Homo sapiens: one gene and its partner. The protein of the gene in region 1 interacts with the protein of each later gene in a biochemical or structural test. Each region holds a gene or a part of one and is shown on either strand. Other genes may lie near its edges.

Region 1 (7,637 bases):
CATATTTTTATGGTAAATTAACCACTTGAAATACATGTATCAAAAACTTATAAAAATAAAGGAAAAACTTACAGTTTAGCCTTTGTGCTATTTAGGAAGTCTTCTTCATCACTAAACTCATCTTCATTTTCGTCATGGTCTGATGAATCTTCTTCACTTTTTTCATCCTCTTCCTCTTCTTTTTCTTCCTCAATGGCAACCTCACTTGCCTTGTCTTCCTCTTCCAAGTAAAAATTTTTATCAGCACTCATTCCAGGAGTTGTGTCAATTACAAACAATGCATTGTCACATGACAGACTTCCTGTGTCTCCACTTAATGACTCCCTTTGGCCACTATTTTCAACAAAACATAAAGTATCCTCTTCATTCTCACTGTTTTCAGACTGTTGGCTTTCATCACTGCTGAGAACTAGTAAGACAGAATTATCTTTACCCTGAGATGTGTTGGGCGCAGACGTGTATAGTTTGGTATCACATTCAAAATCTACATTCCCTTCACTGTTCATGTCTTCACTGACACTTATAACTGTGGACTCTTCTTCATCATCACTACCACCACAATCACCAAACTTTGTCAAGTCACTTGCTTTTATGGGGCTCTTTTTGTTGTTATTCCATCTGCCTACTTCCACAGTTGCAAATGTTTGAGTTAATGATTTCATTACAGCCTCAGAGTTCAGATTAGAGTGCACTGATACAGCATTTTTATTTTGGGGGGTTGAATGTCTCTGAGAAACTAACTGTTGAAGGCTAGTGTCCTGAAGTTCAGAAAGATTCTTCAGCTGAGAACTTTTCTCATTAATTTCTTTCCCCTCATCTGTTATTCCATTGGCATCTTCATCCAAATCCTTACAATTCTGTTTTGTTTCTTTAAGAGATTCAACATTGGCCTGTTCGTGCACTGTTAATATATTTTCTGAACTTCTGTGGGAGAAATCATCATCAAAGTCATTATTATAGAAATTTGGCTTATTTATCTCAGAAAGAGATCTTGCTTGTAAATGGGAAGTTTGTCTGGTATCTGAATCCTCTGAATTCACAGGTGTACCCACGATCTGTTTCTCATTTCCTGGTACAATCTTACTATCTTTCTTTTCAGTTTGTGCCTTTAATTTCCTCTGCATACTCCTGGTTCTTCTAGTTGCAATTCCAGAGAATGAAATGTCTGAGCTTGATGTCTCAGCATCAGATATAGCTTCTGTATGAGATTCTTGGCTTGGATCTGTCAGAGATTTAGCCTTACTTCTTCTGGCTCCTGTAGTTTTTTCTGTAGGAAGCACAATTCTAGAAATACCTGAAACATGAGATTCTGCTTCAGACACTATTTCTTCAGTGTAAGACTCCTTTGTTGGAGTTACTTTCGGCTTTTTCCTAACACTGGACACTGGGGAGCATGCAATTAAGATCTGCCTTCTCCTAGTTACCCTTAAAATGGTATCATGGTGCTCAGACACAGAATAATTTGACTCTGCCTCAGAGGTTTCTCCATCCGTAGATGGTTCAGTCCCCTTTGGTAGTGAGCCTGTAGTTCTGCTCTTCCTCTTTCTAGCTTTAGGAGTTCTAGGGATTAAACTTTGCTTCCCAGTGGTCTGTGATTCAGCAGTAGTTCGGGCATCAGATCCAGTACTACTTTCTGGATGCGCTTGAATCCCATTAGCAGCAAAACTCTGCAAACCAGAGAAAACACACTGTAATTTAGGTAGGGCTGGAACAAGGGCAAAGCAAATGAAATACTGACCCCAAAAGCTAAAACCCAGTAAACAAGATTACCTTTAAAACAAAAAACAAAAAAACCTGCCCAACTCATGATTTTTAAAAAATCAAAATTTGGCCGGGCGCGGTGGCTTACGGCTGTAATCCCAGCACTCTGGGAGGCCGAGGCAGGTGGATCACGAGGTCAGGAGTTCGAGACAGCTTGGCCAACATAGTGAAACCCCATCTCTACTCAAAGTAAAAAAATTAGCGGGGCGTGTTGGTGCGCACCTGTAATCCCAACTACTCAGGAGCCTGAGGCAGAAGAATTGTTGGAATCCGGGAGGCAGAAGTTGCAGTGAGCCGAGGCTGCGCCACTGCACTCTAGCCTGGGCGACAGAGCAAGACTCCGAATCAAAAACAAACAAACAAAAAAATCAAAATTTAAACACTGGAGCCAACCCTGCATTTACTTCACTAGCCTCATCCTTCCTAGATGTAACTTCAGAAGCAGAACGATTAAAATTTTTCTGTTTAAAGTCAAATATAATGGGTAGACCAACATTCTGACCCACCTATAGAAGAGGGGAGAAAGGGAATATTAACTCTGAACACCGATGTGTTTAGGAACACACTGATGGAATCAGTCGCCGCCCTTACCTTTACGTACAGGAAAAAATCGCCGCCGCTCCGTTCCCTGCATCGCTGAGTCAGAATGAGACAGCCGACTAACGCCACTAAGAGTCACCAGGCGACGACACCACAGCCCTCCTCACGCCTTAAGGAGGTGATGCTGGACAGCTGCCAGCCTCCCCACGTGAAAACGAAGCTTTTTTTCCAGCCCCCCTAAATGGGGCTTGTGCATGGTGGCCGAAATTAACCCTCCTTGGTACCGTGTTAACAGTAAGGTTTAAAAGTTCGAACTGTGCTTCTGCATTAAGGAGTTGAACGACCCAAATAAAGTTATCTAACCTCTCTTCCATACTAAAAATTGCCTTAAGAGACAGTGGTGAAGGCTAAACAGTTTCCGTGACAGGCTTAGCACGGGGCCTGGGAGACCCAAGCGCGCGGCAAGCTCGGGTCCTCTCTGTCGGCAGGTCCTCACCCTTAACCGGACCCTTGCGCCGCCCCGCCTGCCTGAGCGCGGCTCTGCGAAGCGGCGAGAAGTAGGGAAGACTGGATTTCCTACCTTTTGCCCGGAACTTTCAGCCGACGCGGCTTGGATGCTGGCCTTAGCCCGTGCAGATCTGGTAACCACCATCTTTCCGGCTCCCTCGCGACCACCACGACTTCCCTCTTCCCTGGCGCTCCGGAAATGCGTCAGAGAACTGCCTCGAGCGCGTTTTCCGCGCAGATCCGAGAATTCGCGAGAATCTCCGCCCAGCCAGTTCAGGCCAGGGCGGTCAGAGACAAAGGGCCTGGGTTTAAGTGTGCATTTCAGAGCTGTAGAAGGCAAGCCAGATTTTTGCTGGGAAAGACCTTCATCGGGGCGGCGAAGCCCGCAGTGACAGAGGGTCTTAGCGTACCCGTTCACATGAATTGTAAAAACGCACTTACATGCCATTCGTTCTTTCATTTGTTTAGTAGAATCGTTTGAACCCGGGAGGCGTTCTTTCATTTCTACGTTCTAAAGAGCTTAATGTAGCCATTGGTATGTCCAAGGGAGAAGTTTGAGATATTTGTGCTTTTTAAAGAAAGACAATATTTACTCGTGTATTGTGACGCTAACTATAAATAAAATTTAAGGACTTGGTTGGGGTAAAAGGGATATAAGGTGCTCGCAGGAACTGGGAGACGAAGTGGAAAGCTGTATAATCTAAACGTGAGATGGTGTTTAGGGATTGGGAATAGCAGAAAAGAAAAAAACGTTAAAGAAATTGTAAAGGAGAAGAATAAGGTTTTGTTGTTGTTGTTGTTGTTGTTATTGTCACAGTGAAAGGAAGAGTATGACCAGAATCAAGAGGTTTCTTTGGTTATCTTTTGAGATAAAAGGTAGAGAACTATGTTTGAGGGGATGGGAAGGGGTTGAAAAAATAAGTAAACGCAAATTATTGTTGGAGGTGAGAAAGGATGAATGAGTGCCTCACCAAACCTAGTCTCTACTTCATGACAGAAAACCAATTTTTTATTTAAAGTCACAGAACACTGTGTCGATGGACACACTGCTTCCCAGCTTAAAATAGCTTATTTTATAGTCTCTCTTGCAGCCAAATGTGGCTATGTGACTACGTTTTAGCCAATTAGGTATAAATTGTGTGCATGTCTTTAGGGACGGCATCTAAAAGAGAGGAGGCCGTCCCTGACTTTTTTTTTTGGAGACGGAGTCTTGCTCTGTCGCCCAGGGTGGAGTGCAATGGCGCAATCTTGGGTCACTGCAACCTCCGCCTCCCGGGTTCAAGCGATTCTCCTGCTTCAGCCTCCTGAGTAGCTGAGATTACAGGCGCCCGCCACCATTCCTGGCTAATTTTTTTTTTGTATTTTTAGTAGAGACGGGGTTTCACCATGTTGGGCAGGCTGGTCTTGAACTCCTGCCTTCAGGTGATTCACCCGCCTCGGCCTCTCAAAGTGCTGGGATTACAGTGCTGGGATTATAGGCCTAAACGACCTCGCCCAGCCCTCCTGATCTTTTAAAGTGCATTTTACTTCCTGGAAAGTTGGGTTCGCTGGTTTTCAGGCGGCAAGTTTGTGCCATAAGGATGAAGGCATGCTTTAGAGATGGCATAGCAGTGAGATGGAAAAATCAACTTGTGGAGCTGCCCTATGAGCCCTCAAGAGCCGCCTTCTAGATTTTTCACCTGATGGAAACACCTTGTTAAAAGCCACTGTTAATTAAGGATTTTTCTATTTGCAGCCGAGCCTAATGCTAACTGAACTGGATAATAAACAGAGATGTGGGTGTAGTCAGAAAAGAATGCACCTTCCTTTGAGCCAGGAGGAAAGAGTTGATATCTGAAACAGAGAGGAGAATGTGAATGCAAGTATGTTCAAGTGGAGTGAAGAAGAGAAGATTTTGGGTAGATAATAACCTCTGTAAGTAGGTGATACATCTCAGAAGAATGGAAATGGTTTATATCAACATTTGTGGCAAATGTGGTAAGAAGCAAAAATAAATTTTAGTAGGGCCAAGTAGCAGTGAGACTATGTAAGAAGATGAACAGAAGAGAAAGGTTAGATTTGAGGAGGAGACAAATCGTGTAGAAGGAAAGTGAACCAATTGGATGTAGGTTGTGGAGATCAAAGCATCAAAGAACAACAGCATCAATCATAATAGTATTGGCCACTTAATATCTGCTGGATACTAATCTACGTGCTTTACATGTATTCATTCATTTAATCTCCACATCTTTAATTTGAGCAAATGCATGAAAATAGAAATTAAGATGACAGAGGTAGGTGTAGAAAACTGGAGAGAATATTAGAAAATCATGCAATGTCTAATACTCACTTGCAAGCATGGCCCTTTCAAGTAAAGAAAAAAAAAAAGGAGAAAACCAACTCATATACAATCTAAGGTCAAGAAACAAACGTAAGATACTAAAATTGTCAGTACATAGTTATAATATGAGAAGATTGAGCTGGTCTATCAACAAATCTACCATAGGCCAAAAAAAAAAGAAGTGTTTTTACGTGGGCTTACCAGGTTTGCCATATTCTTTGCCTATCTTCTTTATCTGAAGTGGATTTAGGGCAAATACAGTATATTTAATTTTAGGTATATATAGTATATACAATACAGTTGACCCTTGAACAACACGGGTTTGAACTGGGAAGTTTCACTTATGCAGTGATTTTCTTCTGCCTCCACCACCCCTGGACAGAAAGACCAACCCCTCCTCTTCCTCCTCAGCTTACTTAACATGAAGACAAGGATGAAGACCTTTATGATGATCCACTTCCACTTCTCTTCCTTATGATTCTCTTAAAATTTTCTTTTCTCGTTTATTGTAAGAATGCAATATATAATATATACAACATATAAAATATGTATTAATCAACTAGTTATCTGCAAGGCTTCTGGTCAATAGTAGGCTATTAGTAGTTAAGTTTTGGGGTAGTCAAAAGTTATCTGTGGATTTTCAACTGTGCAGGGGGGTCAATGCCCCAACCCCCACATTTTTTAACGGTAACCAGTACTATTACTCAGGCCCAAAAGGAAATTTACCTTAAATAATCTATATTTTACTAATTAAATCCTTAAACTGAAAGGTCAAAGCTCCCTGGAATTTTAGGCATTAACCAAAAGATGAGAGTTTTAGTGCATGAGCCTTCTAAAAATGCATACTATTCATGGTCATTCTGCATTGTTACATGTAAAACATTACTATTAAAATTAAGTTTGACCTGTAAGATGTCCAGTGATCCCATTTTCTGGTCTTCAAACCTTTGAATGTGGGCTGGACTTAGTGAGTTCTAATGAAACGAGTATGACAAAAATGATGGATGTCACTTTCAGGATTAGGTTAACAAAAGGCTGGCTTCTATCTTGCTCTCTCTCAATCATTCACTCTGTAGGAACCTAGCTGTACGTTATAAGCTGTCCTTTGAAGAGAACACTGTGGCAAGGAACTGAGTGAAGGAGGCCTCTGGCCTACACCCAGTGAAGAATTAAGGAACTCAGTCTGACAACGTGTGAGGCACTGAGTCCTGCCAACAACTACACGAGTGAGCTTGGAAACAGACCCTCAGTCCAGCCTTCAGGTGAGACTGCAGTCTTGACTTATCCATTGCTGCATCTGGATGCCTCAAAGTCATCCAGATACAACAATAGATAACCAGTAGTTATAGATTAACTTCATCTCTCCTAAAATTTCAAGTAAAATAAATAATACAGGCCAGGTACAGAGGCTCATACCTGTAATCCCAGCACTTTGGGAGGTTGAGGAGGCAGGATCACTTGAGCCCAGGAGTTTGAGACCAGCCTGGGCAACATAACAAAACCCCATCTCTACAAAATATATAAAAATTAGCCAGGCATGGTGGCATGCGCCAGTAGTCCCAGCTACTTGGGAGGCTGAGGTGGGAGGATCACTTGAGCCTGGGAGGTTGAGGCTGCAGTGAGCCATGATCATGCCACTGCACTCCAGCCTGGGTGACAGAGCGAGACCACGTCTTAAAAAAAAAAAAAAGAAAAAAGAAATAATACAGTATGTACTCATGTCTAGCTTCTTTCACTCAGCATAGTGTTTCTGTAATTCATCCATGTTATTGTGTATACCAGTAGTTGATTCTTTTTTATTGCTGAGTATTTCATTGTATGACTATATAACAATGGATTTATCCATTCAGCTGTTGATAGACATTTGGGTTGTATCTGGTTTTCAATATTGTATTTGGGGGCTTTTAGAATTCTGTAATGTCAAATGATCATTTAAGATTGAGTGCAAACTAAGCTGGGTGTGGTGGCATGTGCCTGTAGTCTCAGCAACTTGGGAGGCTGGAGCAGGAGGATTGTTTAGTTCAGGAGTTCTAGGCAGTAGTATGCGATGATCACACCTGTGAATAACCACTGCACTCCAATCTGGGCAACATAATGAAAACTGATCTCTATAAAAAACAAAAACAAAAACAAAAAACAAAGGTTGAGTGCAAAATAAAGACATTTCAGACAAATGGGATCTAGAAAATTTACTGTCACTAAAGACCTTTGGTAAAGAATTACTAAGGAGGCTAGGTACTGTGTCTCATGCCTGTAATCCCAGCACTTTGGGAGGCTGTGGTGAGAGGATCACTTGAGTCCAAGAGTTCAAGACCAGCCTGGGCAACATAGCGAGATCCTGTCTCTACAAAAATAAAAGTTAGCCAGGTGTGGTGGTGCATGTCTGTAGTCCCAGCTACTTGAGAGGCTGAGGTGGGAGGATGGCTTAAGCCTGGGAGGTTGAGGCTGCAGTGAGCCATGATCATGCCACAGTACACCAGCCTAAGAAACAGAGTGAGATCCCTGTCTC
Region 2 (7,656 bases), on another chromosome or scaffold:
GGAGGTGGAGGTTGCAGTGAGCCGAGATCGTGCCACTGCACTCCAGCCTGGGACAGAGCGAGACTCCGTCTCAAAAAAAAAAAAAAAAAAAAAAAAAAAAAAACTGGAAAACCCAGAAAATAAAAACAGCCATAATCTCTCCCTACCAACCCCCACTCCCAAAAAACCAGTTATAACATGTTGACGGGTTTCTTTCCTGTCTTTGTTCTATTTGTTGATATCATTTGACCTTGTTCATATTGTGGAGGGAGAGCCCATTCCTTAGGGTTTTGCTGTAAAGGTCAATGGATCCAGCAATTCACAAGAAAATAATTACACTTTACATTTGTCTAACTGTTTTAATTTATCAAAGCACATTGACATGCATTATCTCATTTGGTGATCACATCAGATAGGCCATTTATCAGGATATTAAAATCAGTCGGGAGAGAGGGGACCTTGTCCCATACCCCATGGCTGGGGAGGCTCAGAGCCAGGATTTGAGGTTTCTAAATTTCGTATCTAGAGATTTGTCCCCTACAATAATTTTTATTTCTCTATCCAATTAAAGTCTATATATCTATGCACAGAAATTCCGTTTGAGACCTAGGACTTCTACTTCCTGTGGTTTATTTTTGCGCCATAGAGCACATTTGTATTTAATGTGTCTTCTGAGCTACCAGCCTGGGAACTTTGCCATCATCACATGCACAGCGGCAGTTTGCTCACCATGCACCAGTGAGCTTCCTCCGCCGCCTGAGCAGCTGGGCTTGGTCCCTGGCAGCAGGCATCTGGGGCATGTAGCTGCCTCTTCAGCTGTCCTGCCAACAGAAGAAACTTACCTCCCATCATCTCCCTGAGTGCCTGCCTCAGCCGCCTTGTATGTATTCATTGCTGTGTCTATAATAAATCAGCGGGTCCTTGCTGGAAGCTTGGACGTTTCAATGGAGAGCTTTCCAGTAAGTGGTGCTTCTGGTTCTTTCCTTCCTGCCTAACCCTTGTCAAATTTCTTTACCATGAAAAGCAGTTCCATATTTGCTAAGGCTTTTAATTTCTTTTCCAAAAAATCTATTTTTGGCCAGACGTGGTGGCTCATGCCTGTAATCCCAGCACTTTGGGAGGCCAAGGCAGGCGGATTACAAAGTCAGGAGATAGAGACCATCCTGGTCAACATAGTGAAACCCCGTCTCTACTAAAAACACAAAAATTAGCTGATTGTGGTGGCGCGTGTCCGTAGTCCCAGCTACTTGGGAGGCTGAGGCAGGAGAATCACTTGCACCTGGGAGGCGGAGGTTGCAGTGAGCCGAGATTGTGCCACTGCACTCCAACCCGGGCAACAGAGCAAGACTCTGTCTCAAAAAAAAAAAAAAAAAAATCTATTTTTTTGGCTTCTTTACCTATATAATCTTCCTGTCTTCTCCAACTCTAGCCTTCTATGTAAGTCTGTAATATCAGGCAGGCTTAACAGTTAGATGAAATCTAGGATTTTCTTGGAAAGGATGTTAGAAAATGAGATTCAGAGTGGCTGTAGGAGGTTACAGAGAGGCAGCAAGAGAGAAAAGGAGACCTTGCAAAGAGAAATCAGGTGGAAGAAGGGCCATAGGAAATTCAGGAATTTCTGAATGGGGCATTTTAGCAAAAAATGAATGAAAAGTCAATGTCATATGAATCAGGGTGTTGCGAACATTAACATATCTGAAAATTGACTTTTGAAATATGTCTCCTCAACACTTGGAAGCTGACATTTCTTCTGCATGACATGCTTGTCAGTTTTATTTTCAAATATCAAAGACTATTTATACAATCAAAATGTCCTTTCACATAAAATTTTTATAGTTTTGCCTGAAAATTTGTGGTCAATTTATTTCTTGCACAGTCAAAGCGGTCAACTGCATAAATCATTACTCCTTCATTGCAAGCCCCTTAACAGTTTAATCCAGAACCATCACTTATGTCAAGGTTCTAATACCATTTGTTTCTGGATTTTGCTTGTTTTCTCTTCATCTATTTGAGATCAGTGAAGAGCTTACACAGAAGTTAGAAAAACAACAAGAATAATTGCTGTTCAAGGTGAGTGGATTAGTGAGTGAACCAATCTAGGTGGTCCAAATGCTTCTATCGCCTCCTTGCCTGGGCTCTGATTACATCTCACTCAGTGTGATGTCTGTCATCCCTGGACAGAGCTGTCTTAACAGTGAATACATCTTTACCTAGCATCTCTCTTTCTAAGAACCCCACTAGGACCACTCTTTGGAAAAATGTGGTCAAGGCCACATCTGGGTGCCTGTGGTAAGCTGGCTAGTCATCCTCGCCCACCACAGATGCTAGCTGCCTTAGCACGCCCAGATGTATAGGTAAGAACCAAGCAACCAAATCATCTTTCTGCATCAAAGTAGCCAAAACTTTTTTGTTGAACCCAGTGATACTTTGTTCAAATTGGTCAAGAATAGAATTGAGTGGTTCAGCATTAAATTTTCCAATTAGTGTTCTGCTTATCATCCCTAAATAACACATCTCATAGGAGTGAAAAGCAAAAAACAAAAAATTTATCTCATCTTTTGGTGTCAACTAGTTTCAATATAATTGTATTCAGTCCCCACTTATCTCGTTTTCCTTAACTAGTTGTTCTTTGATTTCAAATCTGCTGTTCTCCCAGTGGGAAGATCACCTCTTCCACATGTGGAAGAAAACACAGGTTCCTTGGGTTCCCAAGAAGCTGTTCACAAAGCCTCTGCTTATTTACAAAGCAAGATCGATGCTGTCCTACCTGAGCTCATTTTCAACCCTGAACCCTTTCCTGCGGGCCAGCTCCATGAGGAACGCTCTGCGGGTGGTTCCCATTTTCTTCTCCAAAATGAAGACGACCAAATCTTGAAATTTGATGTCTTGAGGAGAGGAGGCCATCAAGGCACCCGTCTGCCGGGGTCTCTTCTTCCGAGGGCTCAAGTGGGACGCTCGTGGTGGATCCATGGGAAGAGGCTGCTGCTGCCTCTGGCTGGCCCATCTGGTGGTGTCTCCAGAAGGGAGGGAGACTGCCACCCTCCTACACGAAGGGTTTTGATGTCATCTCACCAGCAGACTCTGAAGCCAGGCCAGGGCTTCACAGGTGCTGCCCTGGCAACAGCTTCCTGCCAAAGTGTGATGGGGAATTTTTATCTCTGTTCAGTTCATTTGTCCAATATGGAGATCATAATGAAGACAGTCAATTAACTTTTGTTTTCATACGCACAATCTCATTAGCTCCTCAGAGTAACCTCGTGAGGAAGGTAGGGAAGCATCATTGTTTGCATGTTATTTATTTCTAAATGTACTGAGGCCCTTCTGTGGTCTTTATTTATTGATCCCCTTTAAACCTCCCAACTCACTTGCATTCTCCTCCTTTTGTAGACAATCATTACACTGTACTGGATGTCTGTTATTTGCATGGGTGTTATATTCTGCTTGTGGTTGTTTTGACTTTACATAAATGGCATTGTTACATTTCTCATTTTGCCAATCACCTTTTTATTTCACTTGGAACTATGTTTTCCAGATCCGTATTCTAATTGCTCTGTTGCTTCTAACTGCTCCATAGTATTTCATGGTGGGTATTACCACCTGTTCACTTACATAGGTACATTTTATAAGCAAGAGAACCAAGGCTCAGTTATTCAAGATCACAGAATAAGGGGCCAAGCCATATCTTGAATTCAGTTCTTTGGATTCCAAATGCTGTATGCATATATTAGTTTTTTAAGTGGATTAAGGTTGTCCAGAGAGTAGTCTGTTATAAACCCTAAAATAGGTCTTCTTCAGTGGGATGGTATGACTTTTAGATGATAACCACTGCCATAAGGAGACATTTTCATAACTTTATGTGCAAAATTAAATTTGTCTTTCACCAATACACTCTATAGATCTCATTTCCTGAGCAGCTACTACACGGCCAAGGCAAGCACCTACCAGCCTTAGCTGACAGGATCCTCACAATACCACTGTCAGGTGGTCCTACCTTTCTCATTTGGCTAAACAATTTGCCCAAGGTCACAGAGCTACTGAATTTTCACAACTGAGAAATGATTGAGCTAGGATTTGGACTCAGATCTGTCTGATTTTAAAAGACTACTCTTAACCACCAAGGAGCCTTCCTCTGTATTGTCTTCTCCAATAACCAATCTGAGCTCTGCTCACCCTTTGTCCTTTTTTTTTTTTTTGGAGATGGAGTTTCGCTCTTATTGCCCAGGCTAGAGTGCAGTGACACAATCTCAGCTCACTGCAACCTCCACCTCCTGGGTTCAAGCGATCCTGCTACCTCAGCCTCCTGAATAGCTGGGATTACAGGCGCACGCCACCACGCCTGGCTAATTTTTGTATTTTTAGTAGAGATGGGGTTTCACCATGTTGGTCAGGCTGGTCTTGAACTCCTGACCTCAGGTGATCGGCCCACCTCGGCCTCTCAGAGTGCTGGGATTACAGGTGTGAGCCACCATGGCTGGCCGTCTGTGCCATATTATTTGAGACTTTTGCTATCTCCAAAACACGTGAGCACCTCACAACCGTATTAGGGGAAGAGTCATGTGACAGCTGCCTTAAGGCATGGGTAAAGCACTCTGTGTTGCTCAAGAAAGCAAAATCAGAAATCTTCAGGTGGAAATTGTAGAGTAATAGATTCCAGTTCTCCGCAAGTAAGACCTGTTTAGTAACTCAGCTGTCTAAAAATATACAGAGAGCAGCTTTATACAGTTGTGTGTTACAAGTCATGAAAAGTATTCAAACAGATGCTGGATAACTGTTTATTGAGCTGTAACAGAAGGGAATTCAGACATCTGGTAAGGGCCTATAATGCAGCCCTGAAATTCCCGGATGCTATGACTGTTTGCTAGAGATCAACTGGAAGATGAGAGTCTATTTTGACCCTCACTATTATGTGTTTGGTTACTGAAGAGCTGAATGCTTCATGTTAGAATGCAGTCTTAGCTACCAAATGGTGCTGCAGCAGGGAGTTAAGTAAATGATTCTAGCAAGAGTCTGGGATTGTTGTGTTCGTTCCCAAGGTATAGCCACCTAATAGTAAAGGTGCACCACCTAAGCAGTAAAGGGAATGGGGAGGTAGTACTGAGATGTGGCTAACAGCTCAGGCTTCGTCAGGCTGCCCATAAAAATTCTGTCTCTATTGCTCTGAAGCTTCAAAGCAAGTTGCTTAACTTCTTTAAGCCTCAGCTTTACCCCATCTGTAAAATGAGGACTGAGATAGCCCACATAACCTGCTGGGCAGAGTGCTTGACACAAAGGTAGCACTTTCAATAAATGTCAGTTCGTAGTAATTTATGTTTTGTTTTTAGAGACATTCCAGTTCAATCTGAAATCGGATATATATGTTTTGTGAAACTACTAAATCATCAAAATATCATATTAAACAATGTCACATTTTAATTTGCTTTGAGTCACTGGTATTGAAAACATTACCAACAAAAATTTCAAATGTACTGATGCCTGTCTGGTTATCAGGCTATCATCTCTCAGCTGCAAATCTACCTTTTTTCTGATGGATTCCATGAGGTTGAGGCTGGGACTGAGCAAATTCTCTTTCTCATTTGCCAGCTGACTTTATGTCAGGCTCTGCCAATGGTGATACCAGAGGGAGACTGAAAGTCTAGATAAGAGGAAAGAGGTGACCTTTTTTGTTTGCTTGCTGCTACAAAGGTCAGGGTCTTCGCAGTAATGGTTCTCTACTCAGACAGCAGTGATTGGTTCTAGTCTTTAGCTTTTTTCTTTTTCTTTTTTTCTTTTCTGCACAACCAGACCCAGTCTTACTGTACCCTTCAGAGGTATCAATACCACTTAGGTGACATCTCCTCAAAAGTCTGAGCCCCAGCTCTGCAGAGGTTTCCCTATGAAATTCTATGGCACCAGGGACGACAGGCAGCACTTCCTTATTAAAGATCTGTGTTCCAGCTCCATGGGAGCCCTGCTCCAAACTTCCAGTTTTCAACAATCCCAGCTCCATCCCTTTGTTGCTCCAGCCCAGTGGTGTAGTGTGCTTCTTGCAGTTTCTTTCTCTGAGTTACCTCAATGTCCTCTTTTTGCTTTTTCAGCAATTAATGTCTGTTAAACCAATCCCCTGTGGTGAAGGGAGGTGTGAAATAAGGTCTGAGAGCACAGATGTCTCATCGCCTTCTCAGGAACTAAATTAAATCGTGCTCATGAAGTGCCTTGAAAATAATAAAACACTATACAGAGTTCTCTTATGCTCTTTGGCATTGCTGCCAATAGCAGGAATTGATTTCTTCTTACTATACTATGATTTTCTGAAGCTCTTTGCATCAGATGTTGAGCACTCTCCTTGATCTACTAGATTGGTCAATAATCTCCAAATCTCAGTGTCTTAACAAAAGTTTATTTGTTTATGCTACTTGGTGGAGAATTCTGCTCCATTTAAGACTCTTCAATATGAACAAATAGAATACAGGTGTTAGGAGCCAGACTACCTGAATTCAAAACCTAACCTTTCTTTGCTTTATTTCCCTTATCTCTGCAATGGGGGTTAGAATGATTTCTATCTTACAGGTGGCTATGAGGACTAAAGCACTTCAAAGACCACTGGCATGCAAGTTCCAAGAACTGTCCATTGCTATTGTAATAGTGCAGGTTTCTCCTTGTTCCCCCTTCCCTTCCCTGTGTTCCCATATACTTTGTAGGTAATCCTGTCACAATCCTTCCCAATGGTCTTTTGCTTTCCCTAGACTCTTCCAAAAGTGGTGCCAGCCCGCTTAGGAAGAGCTGACACAGGAGGATCACTTGAGCCCAGTAGATCGGGGCTGCAAAGAGCCCTGTCCATGCCACTGCTCTCCAGCCTGGGTAACAGAGTGAGACCCTGTCTCAAAAAAGAAAACAAAACAAGACAAAAAAATAAAACAGACCTAAGACTCTAATGAGACCAGAGGGGTGTCCTGCAATGATTTATGGGAACACTGGTCCCATGAAGTGTTCCAGGCAAAACAAAAATTCTGCAGTGAATTAAGTGTAGGGAAACCAGAGAAACTCTATACAATGTGTGTTAGAACATTAAAGGTTTGTAATAAACTGTGTTCGCCCACTGTATTCTCAACATGCTTACCTTTTCTTTGTTTGTTTTGTAGAACACCTACAGCACCCTTTTGAATGCAACTGGAAGTATTGGTGCCTCAGGAGCTACACAAGCCTGAACCACCTGCTACTTACCAGATGTATGAGCTTGGGCCATTCCCTTACCCCATGGGGGGTTCGCAGTTTCCAACATGTAAAATAGCAGTCATAGTGCCAACTTCTTCACATTGTAAGTGATGAATAAGATAGCATGACAACTGCCTGCCTGGTCCACATGGGAGCTGGGCCACTGTTCTGTCCTCCCTTTCATGCTGCCACTCCCATGATGCTGGCAGATGTGACCAATGCTCCTGCCTGTTCAGGTGATGATGGCTATGAGGAAACAAAGAACACAGCTGCTCACTGGTTTCCATGCTGATGCTCCCAGGCAGCCACTTCTCCCCTTAGTTCGGGATTGTTTTTAAATTTTTTCCATTTTGGGTAATATTTAGTCTCCACATGATCATTCTTAGAGATCTTTATTGAGTACAAGTGTATGGGGCAGGAAACAATGGGGAGGATTTTAGGTTTTCCATGGTTCAGTGGAGAAGTAGCCCTCTTCCCATCAGCAAA

What was found. The genes of interacting proteins can lie anywhere in the genome.
Region 2: the proteins of DNTTIP2 (region 1) and DNTT form a complex in vitro, tested with the Homo sapiens proteins (one study listed by BioGRID).

Annotation. Positions count from the first base shown.
Region 1 is NC_000001.11:93,876,196-93,883,832, forward strand, and holds the start of DNTTIP2 (deoxynucleotidyltransferase terminal-interacting protein 2), read right to left. Parts: upstream 3,012-7,637; 5' UTR 2,954-3,011; coding exon 2,882-2,953; intron 1,668-2,881; coding exon 73-1,667; intron 1-72. UniProt on the Homo sapiens protein: Regulates the transcriptional activity of DNTT and ESR1. May function as a chromatin remodeling protein. Part of the small subunit (SSU) processome, first precursor of the small eukaryotic ribosomal subunit.
Region 2 is NC_000010.11:96,299,791-96,307,446, reverse strand, and holds the start of DNTT (DNA nucleotidylexotransferase), read right to left. Parts: upstream 3,014-7,656; 5' UTR 2,950-3,013; coding exon 2,747-2,949; intron 1-2,746. UniProt on the Homo sapiens protein: Template-independent DNA polymerase which catalyzes the random addition of deoxynucleoside 5'-triphosphate to the 3'-end of a DNA initiator.